Linked DNA regions of Homo sapiens. The protein of the gene in region 2 purifies or fractionates together with the protein of the main gene of each other region. This does not show direct contact. Each region holds a gene or a part of one and is shown on either strand. Other genes may lie near its edges.

Region 1 (3,581 bases), on a different chromosome or scaffold from region 2:
CGTGCAGGAGAATTGACATATTGGGATTGATAACAGGGATGGGTGTATCAGTAACAATTTACAAAGGACGTAATTCAGAAGTCATCATAAAATCTAAAATTGTAATTTCAGAAGTGTAATTCCAAGCACGTTTTAAGTCAGTACAGTTATACTTTATTATCTGCTCTTCTGTAGTCTAACTTACTTTCAATTTCTTTGTCATCAATATGTGAATACTACTTACTGGAAGGAAATCACACGTCTTTTCTCCAAAGAGTCTGTTGGCAGTTCTAAGCAAGTACTGAGTGCCAGTTCTGTTAACTTCACTGAGAAGTGACTGGAAACCTCGGTGAATATCTCCGTCTTTGTATAAACAAAGTGCCTGGGAACAGAAACCAACACTGACTTTTAACGCTGCCATTATACTCTCCCAAAGAGCTTTCTCCAAACAAACCTCTGTACTAAAAAAACCACACAGGATCCTACTTTAAAAAGGTTTGGCCTAATTGTCTAGCACAGGGTTTCTCAACGTGGGCAATGCAGCATTGACATTTGGGGCCAGGACACTTCCTTGTCTCATATAAGCATTGTAGGATTTTTGCAGCACTTCTGGCTTCCATCCACTAGATGTCAGTAGCACCTCTCAGTTATGGGATCTAAAACTCCAGGTCTTCGCAAGGGTCCCCAGGAAGGAAAAATTCACCCACCGACCCCTACCTCCCACCCACCAGGTGAGAACCACTAGTCTAGCAAATTTATTCATGCCAGCAAGGCAGTGTGCGATAATTCAGGGGGAAGGCAGAACAGAAAAAAGTAAGTAACTGGGATGAATTACAACTCGGGTAATACAAACAAAAGCAGCAATAAAACTAAAAATGTTTCATCTGCAATTTTACAGAAGTTCTCCAGACCATATTATAAATTAAATGTCAAGTCAGAGTGAGAATTAAGGTTATTCCTATATCTCTCGATCACCCCCAGTCCAAAGCCTCACTCCTCCAATCAGTTGAAAGAAACAACCACAGAAGGATGTCAACTGGGGTCCCTGGGTGCATTTTAGGAGACTGTCTATACACTCCTGATATTGGTGGCAAAATGATATCCATTTGGCAATTATCTGGGACATCTTCACCAATAGTCAGAGAACTGTTCCTAAAGCATTATCCCACACCTCGTTTGTAGATAAGGTCATACATCACCATTTTGAATCAAACAGATTATATATTCCTCAAATCACTCCAGAAGATATAAGTCCACACTTGTGTTACATTCCTCTTCTAGGATGCATAATCATGCACTAAAATAACCCACTTAACAAAAAGTTAATCTACGCACCCACATGTCTATTAAAAATATAATGTTAGCAAAAGTTTAAAATGTAACAAAATTGGAATATTTTGCTTTCTTGTGGGACAGAATTATACTTTATCCTACTTATCAAAGATGTGAATTTGCCAGACTGTATTGATGATCTGATCTAGAGAAAATAACTCTATGGCTTGACTTCTCCCATAAACATCAGAGGAGATGATCTGTCCAACACATTTCACCTTTCTACCCCTTTCTGCTCTTCTCCACTGCCGAGCTGCTCCTCCTTCTACCTCCAGCTCCACAGGCCTCAGCTAGAGCAAAAGTACAGAAAGACAGCTGTATGGAAGCACAAGGGAAACACACTGTTCTCCTTCCTTTGTGACAAGCACACATACCTGGGACATCTGGGCTGCAGTGCTTCCCTTTGCCCCCATGAAGACCATGGCCAGGGCAGAGGAGATGCTCATGGGAGAGAAGAATACGTTTCTTGAGTTGTCCTCTTCCCCCAATATTTTAAATAAGCTGATGGCAAAAGTGCCATTTGCTTCACAGAGGTCATCCATCAGAGAAGGTCTGCATCAAAGGCACAGCAGGGAAAAGCACATAAGCCAATGACTCCGGTAGCCACGCAGTCATTCATCCCCCAGTCAGTGGACGCTGAGGTGGTAGGTGGAAGAACCACCCTCCAAAGACTTCCACTCCTAATTCCCAAAACCTGTGACTACATGATCTGCCCTGGCAATAAGGACTTTGCAAATGGTATTCAGTTAAGTATTTTGAGATCTGAGATTATCCTGAGTTATCCCAGTGGGCTTAATGGAATCACGAGCGTCCTTAAAAGAGAGAGGCAGGAGGGGCAGAGTCAGAGACAGAGACATGAGGACGGAAGCAGAGGTCAGAGGGATAGGGGCCACTGATGAAGGAATGCAACCTCCTCGAGAAGCCAGAAAAGGCAAGGAACAGATTTTCTTCTAGAGACTCCAGAAAATAACATTGCTATGCTGTACCATTTTGGACTTAGGACTTCCAGAACCATAAGATAATAAATGTGTGTCATTTTTCAGCCACTAAATTTGTGGTAAAGTGTTATCACACCAATAGGAAACAAAAACACTGGTTTATTCATAAAATAGCCAATCTCAGGGCCTATGACTTGTATCCCTCTTAGCAACAGGGGCACAGACACCCTGCAACACCTGCTTACTTCCTCCCTTGGTATAGCAGCAGCCAAAAGGTCTTTGTGCGGACGGGTGTGGTGCCTCACACCTGTAATCCCAGCACTTTGGAAAGCCAAGGCAGGCAGATCACTTGAGGTCAGCAGTTCGAGACCAGCCTGGCCAACAAGGTGAAACCCCATCTCTATTGAAAATTCAAAAATTATCCAGGCATGGTGGCGGGCACCTGTAATCCCAGCTACTTGGAAGGCTGAGGCAGGAGAATCACTTGAGCCCCAGGAGGTGGAGGCTGCAGAGAGCCGAGATCACGCCACTGCACTCCAGCCTGGGCAACAGAGTGAGACTCCATCTCAGGAAAAAAAAAAAAAGATCTTGGTGCCAGGCACTGTTTTCAGCACTTTCCATTATCACCCAATAACACATTGAGGTCAGTATAGTTATTGCCCCACTTTAGAGATGAGAAGACTGAGTGAGGTTTAGTAACTCATTCCAGAACCCTCAGGTAGTCATAAACGCCTGGCACCCACAGTTTGATTCCAGAGCCTGAATTCTTAATCATTACACAAAATCCCCCTATTGCTGCTAATTATCTTTCAGTTTAATGTCTCCAATATAATCTATAAAGAATGTTCTAAAACTTATATATGTAATTCTTTATCAATAAAAACTGTATTTCTGTCATCACTTCCTGTGAAAACAGCTAGATACATTTCACCAAATTTGGAGGGTTTGTTTGAGATAGGCTGGCCTGAAATATGAGGCTACTGGAAAGACAAAAAAAAAAAAAATTACTTTTTAAAGTGACTCCAAAAAGATGCCCCATTTTCCCCAAGAGTTGCTGAAACTGGGTTACGGAGTTGCAAAGAAAGTCCATAGGCATGGATATAAAATATGAAGCCCTAATCTTGTCATCGAGGGAGCACTTTTAATTAGATGCATTGATTTTTGGATCCTCCTGGCTAAGAGGGTCTTAACATTCCCCTCAGCTTGAATTAACTTTAGACAACCTAAACTTGACTAAATAAACAAACTAAACAGGCTTCCTCCTGCCTCTAGGCCCTTTCTTCCTTTTTCTTAAAGCATTTTATTTAGAGAACTTGTCATTGTAAATTCTTT
Region 2 (5,167 bases):
AGGTGATCCACCTGCCTCAGCAAGTGCTGGGATTACAGGCATGAGCTATCACACTCCCCTCTTTTTTTTTTTTTTTTTGTTTTTTTTTGGGGGGAAATGGAGTGTCACTCTTGTTGCCCAGGCTAGAGTGCAATGGCGTAATCTCAGCTCACTGCAACTTCCCATCTCCCAGGTTCAAGCAATTCTTCCATTCCAGCCTCCCAAGTAGCTGGGATTATAGGCACCTGCCACCATGCCCAGCTAATTTCTGTATTTTTTTTTTTTTTTTTAGTAGAGATGGGGTTTCACCATGTTGGCCAGGCTGGTCTCAAACTCCTGACCTCAGGTGATCCACTGACCTCAGCCTCCCAAAGTGCTGGGATTACAGGCATGAGCCACCACGCCCAGCCTAGACCCTGCTTCTAAAAGGCCGCTATAGGGGAACTGCCCTGGGATCTTAGACTCCAGTTAGCACCAGAAAAACATACTAGGAAAAAGCTAAGGATGAAAGTACATTTCCTTTGTGGAATAGACAACAGGGCCTTGGAAGCTTCTTACTTGCAGGGCAGGTGGCTAAGATGGGCAGCTGGACAACTGCTAAACTGGCTTGTTTCTAAAAGTCTGAATTTACATGGTTTCAAGTTTCTCTGCTGGTGTACTTGGCCACTAGGTGGTGACTGAGGCTTGTGGCTCTGAGGCTTCTGCTGGAAGGTGGCAGAATTGCCATGCTCTGCCCGAGGTTGAGCAGGGAGGAATTTTAGCCCTGCCTGAAATATGAAGGGAAACTGACCTGGGGACGGGCCAAGGCTAGACTGAGCCCTGGCTCTGTCAGAATGGCCCCTAGCCCCAGCAGCAGGATGGAATGTCAGTCTAAAATGAGAAGGCTTGGCCAGGTACGGTGGCTCATGCCAATAATCCCAGCACTTTGTGAGGCCAAGGCAGGTGGATCACTTGAGGCCAGGAGTTCAAGACAAGCCTGGCCAACATGGGGAAACCCCATCTCTACTACAAATACAAAAACTAGCCTGGTGTGGTGGTGGGTACCCGTAATCCCATCTACTTGGGAGGCTGAGGCAAGAGAATCGCTTAAACCTCGGAGGTAGTGGCTACAGTGTACTCCAGCCTGGACTAGAGACAGACTCCGTCTCAGAAAAAAAAAAAAAAAAAAAGGGTAGCGGGGCAGTGCTTACAGGGTAGTTGACTATTCCCTGGGTGGTGGGGGGTCTTTCAGCTCCCAGCAGGAGCTCATATTGGGTTCATTCCCTCGTACTTGTCTAACGAGGGTGGGTAAACGTTTCCCAGAGGCCAGGACTGTCAGGGTATCAGCCTGGTGAGTCTTCTGGTCGTCATATCCCTTACAGGTGAAGGGAGACTGACGTAGGCTTGACTAATAGCAGAGGTATGTGCAAGGAAGAAAAGCCCAGGGAAGCTTGCCCAAAGAGTGAGCCATCAAACTCAAGTCTGGCCGGGCGCAGTGGCTCACGCCTGTAATCCCAGCACTTTGGGAGGCCAAGGCAGGTGGATCACAAGGTCAGGAGTTCAAGACCAGCCTGGCCAAGATGGTGAAACCCTGTCTCTACTAAAAATACAAAAAAATTAGCGAGGCATTATGGCAAGTGCCTGTAATCCCAGCTACTTGGGAGGCTGAGGCAGGAGAATTGCTTGAACCTAGGAGGCAGAGGTTGCAGTGAGCTGAGATCGTGCCATTGCACTCCAGCCTAGGCAACAGCAAGACTCCACCTCAAAAAAAAAAAAAAAAAAAACCTCTTAAGTCTGAAATGGAAACTCCACAGAAGCAAGTCCAAAAGGCTTCTTTATGTGCCCAAGGACCTCAGGTCCCAGAAACAACTTGGTCTTGCCTTAGCTGGCAATACAGTGACTACATCCCTGAAGAAAAGTAGCTTGTCAACTAGTCAAGTGGCAGGTGGCAGCGTCAGAAGCCCAGCTAAGCTGCTAGCTATTAAGGTGTCTACCACTCACCTCGGTCACCTGGGGATGGGCGCGGGTTTAGCAATGCTGAGTTAAGCCCAGGACTGGCCAGGCACGGATAGCTGGCACCTGTAATCCCAGTACTTTGGGAGGCTGAGGCGGACAGATCACTTGAGCCCAGGAGTTTGAGGCCAGCTTGGGCAACATGGCAAAACCTCATCTCTGCAAAAAATCCAAAATTAGCCAGGTGTAGTGGCTTGTACCCGTAATTCCAGCTGCTCATGAGGCTGAGGTGGGAGGATCCCTTGAGCCCAGGAGGTCAAGGCTATAGTGAGGCATCATCATACCACTGTACTCCAGCCTGGGTGACAGGCCCTGTCTCAGAAGCCCAGGGTCAAGCATGCTCAATGATTGGGTAAGTTTGGAAAAGATCAGGGGAATAAGTGGTGGATTCCAGTCTAAAACTAGTTGCTACTTGCTCTAACATTGGGTAAGTGAACCTTTACACCATCTTAGAGATGAGGCTCTTCCTTCCCCCTGTTTATTTTATGAGACAGTCTCACTCTGTCAGCCAGGCTGGGGTGCAGTGGCATGATCTCGGCTCACTGCAACTTCTGCCTCCCAGGTTCCAGTGATTCTCCTGCCTCAGCCTTCCAGGTAGCTGGGACTACAGGTACCCACCACCACGCCCAGCTAACTTTGTATTTTTAGTAGCGATGGGGTTTCACCATGTTGGCCAGGTTGGTCTCGAACTCCTGACCTCAGGTGATCTACCCGCCTTGGGCTCCCAAAGTGCTGGGATTATAGGTGTGTGCCAATGCACCCGGCCCCTTCTCACTCTTTAAAGGGTTGAGGGTTATAAGAGAACTGGTGTGTTAAACTCCCAGGCACAGCCTGGAACTCGGCCTGGAAATAGCTGTTATTCCTTGCAGATATACATCACCTGCCACCTGAAGGTCACCCTAGCTGAGCAGGACCCAGATGAACTCAACAAGGCCTGTTCCTTCAGCAAGCCTTCCAACAGGTGAGGAGGACAGGTGCTCCGTGACTGGAGTAGAAACTGAATCGGCGACCCCTTGTCTATTTCCCCCAATATATTATCAGCAAACTGCTTCCTGCAGGCAACAAAAATCTAAGCTGCTTCTCTTTCATCTCAGCTGGTTCCCAGTGGAAGGCTCGGCTGACATCTGTCAATGCTGTAACAAAGGTGACTGTGGCACTCCAAGCCATTCCAGGAGGCAGCCTCATGTCATGAGCCAGTGGTCCAGGTCTGCTTCCCGTAACCGCAGGCATGGTATGTCACAGAATGGCCAAGAGGCTGTTCATTGTCCCTTACTCAGTTGAGGGTACCTGCTGTCATTTCAGGGTGATGGTATTTTCCCTTGTCCTCCATTAAAACTGTTTGTACCTAGGCCTGCAGCTACCTTTCCCTAACACAAATCTTGGGGTTAAGCAGGAGGGGCTCTCAGCCTTCCACCTCGGTGGCAGCCAGGGAGATCTGCTGTCATCCTAGGCTTCTACTGAGACATAATTAGGCATGTAGGGGAAATATAGCAGTTGTTAAGATAATCTGGCTTGGCATAGTGGCTCAGGCCTGTAATCCCAGCACTTCGGGAGGCCAAGGCGGGCAGGTCACCTGAGGTCAGGAGTTCGAGACCAGCCTGACCAACATGGAGAAACCCCATCTCTACTAAAAATAAAAAATTAGCTGGGCGTGGTGGTACATGCCTGTAATCCCAGCTACTTGGGAGGCTGAGGCAGGAGAATCACTTGAATCTGGGAGGCAGAGGTTGCAGTGAGCCGAGATTGCACCATTGTACTCCAGCCTGGGCAACAAGAGTAAAACTGTCTCTCAAAAAAAAAATAATAATCTGGCCAGAACAGTGGGTTGTGCCTATAATCCTAGCACTTGGGGAGGCTGAGGCCAGGGAAATCGCTTGAGCCCCATGAGTTCTCGACCAGCCTGGGCAACATAGCAAGACCCTGTCTCTACAAAAAAGATGATGTACTAGGGAATCCCTCTTGGGTGACCTGCTTTCTCCGTATGAGAAAGCTGTCTTTTTCTTTTTTCTTCCCCCTCCCCTGCACCAAGATGGTGTCTAGCTCTGTCCTCCAGGCTGGAGAGCAATGGCACGATCTCTGCTCACTGAAACCTCTACCTCCCAGGTTCAAGCTATTCTCCTGCCTCAGCCTCCCAAGTAGCTGAGACTACAGGCATGTGCCACCATGCCCAGTTAACTTTTTTATTTTCAGTAGAGACGGGTCTTGCCGTGTTGGCCAGGCTGGTCTCAAACACCTGACCTCAGGTGATCTGCCTGCCTCAGCCTCCCAAAGTGCTGGGATTACAGGCATTAGCCATCACACCTGGCCGAGAAAGCTGTGTTTTTTTTGTCTAGAAACTGTTTATTAGCCCACACAAAAAAGACAACATATTAGTTTAGCCCACTGAGGCAGAATAAAACCTCCAACCCAGTTCCCGGTTAGGGACTAAGATAACCCTTGGTTGTGTGTTCTCCTTTCACAGTGACAGAAGAAGCAGATGTCACCGTGGGGCCACTGATCTTCCTGGACAGGAGGGGTGACCATGAAGTAGAGCAGTGGGCTTTGCCTTCTGACACCTCAGTGGTGCTGCTGGGCGTAGGCCTGGCTGTGGTGGTGTCCCTGACTCTGACTGCTGTTATCCTGGTTCTCACCAGGAGGTGTCGCACTGCCTCCCACCCTGTGTCTGCTTCCGAATAAAAGAAGAAAGCAATATCTGGTCGTGGTGTGGTGGTCAGATGGAAGGTCAGAATTAGTACTGACTGTGTCGGGTGGGGACGACTGTATACCACCCGCCCCGTGCACTCACATAGCATAGTCCAGCAAGCACTACTGTGTCTCTACTGTAAACAGGGCAGGGTTCATGTCCTTAGACAACTATAATCTATCACCTCCATGGGAACCAACATGGAAACTCTTAGATGAAGGTCAGTCTGGCTGGACCCACCTTACTTCTAGGCTAGCAAAGAATCTTATATCTCTGGCCCCCATGGATTTGACTCTAGACATGGGAGTGGGGAGGAGAGAGCTTCCAGGCCCACTTCTCCAAGGCAAGCAGGCAGGCAGCTCTGTCCAGATGCTAGAGGCCAGAAGGCCAGTCATGACTGGGCCCTCCCAGTAGGGCAGTGATCAGAGCACTGCTTCTGCCTGGTCTTAGCTGTCACCTTGGGCTTGAAGCTATTCTTGGGACATGTTGGTATGAACTTGTCAAAGCTGCAGC

The links. Proteins that work in one complex are often made in the same cells at the same time.
Region 1: the proteins of ZP3 (region 2) and SERPINB8 purify together in Homo sapiens (affinity purification with mass spectrometry; one large-scale study listed by BioGRID and IntAct). This does not show direct contact.

Annotation. Positions count from the first base shown.
Region 1 is NC_000018.10:63,976,581-63,980,161, reverse strand, and holds part of SERPINB8 (serpin B8), read right to left. Parts: intron 1,864-3,581; 5' UTR 1,854-1,863; coding exon 1,686-1,853; intron 362-1,685; coding exon 224-361; intron 1-223. UniProt on the Homo sapiens protein: Has an important role in epithelial desmosome-mediated cell-cell adhesion.
Region 2 is NC_000007.14:76,437,410-76,442,576, forward strand, and holds the end of ZP3 (zona pellucida sperm-binding protein 3 isoform 1 precursor), read left to right. Parts: intron 1-2,840; coding exon 2,841-2,932; intron 2,933-3,065; coding exon 3,066-3,202; intron 3,203-4,432; coding exon 4,433-4,647; 3' UTR 4,648-4,660; downstream 4,661-5,167. UniProt on the Homo sapiens protein: Component of the zona pellucida, an extracellular matrix surrounding oocytes which mediates sperm binding, induction of the acrosome reaction and prevents post-fertilization polyspermy.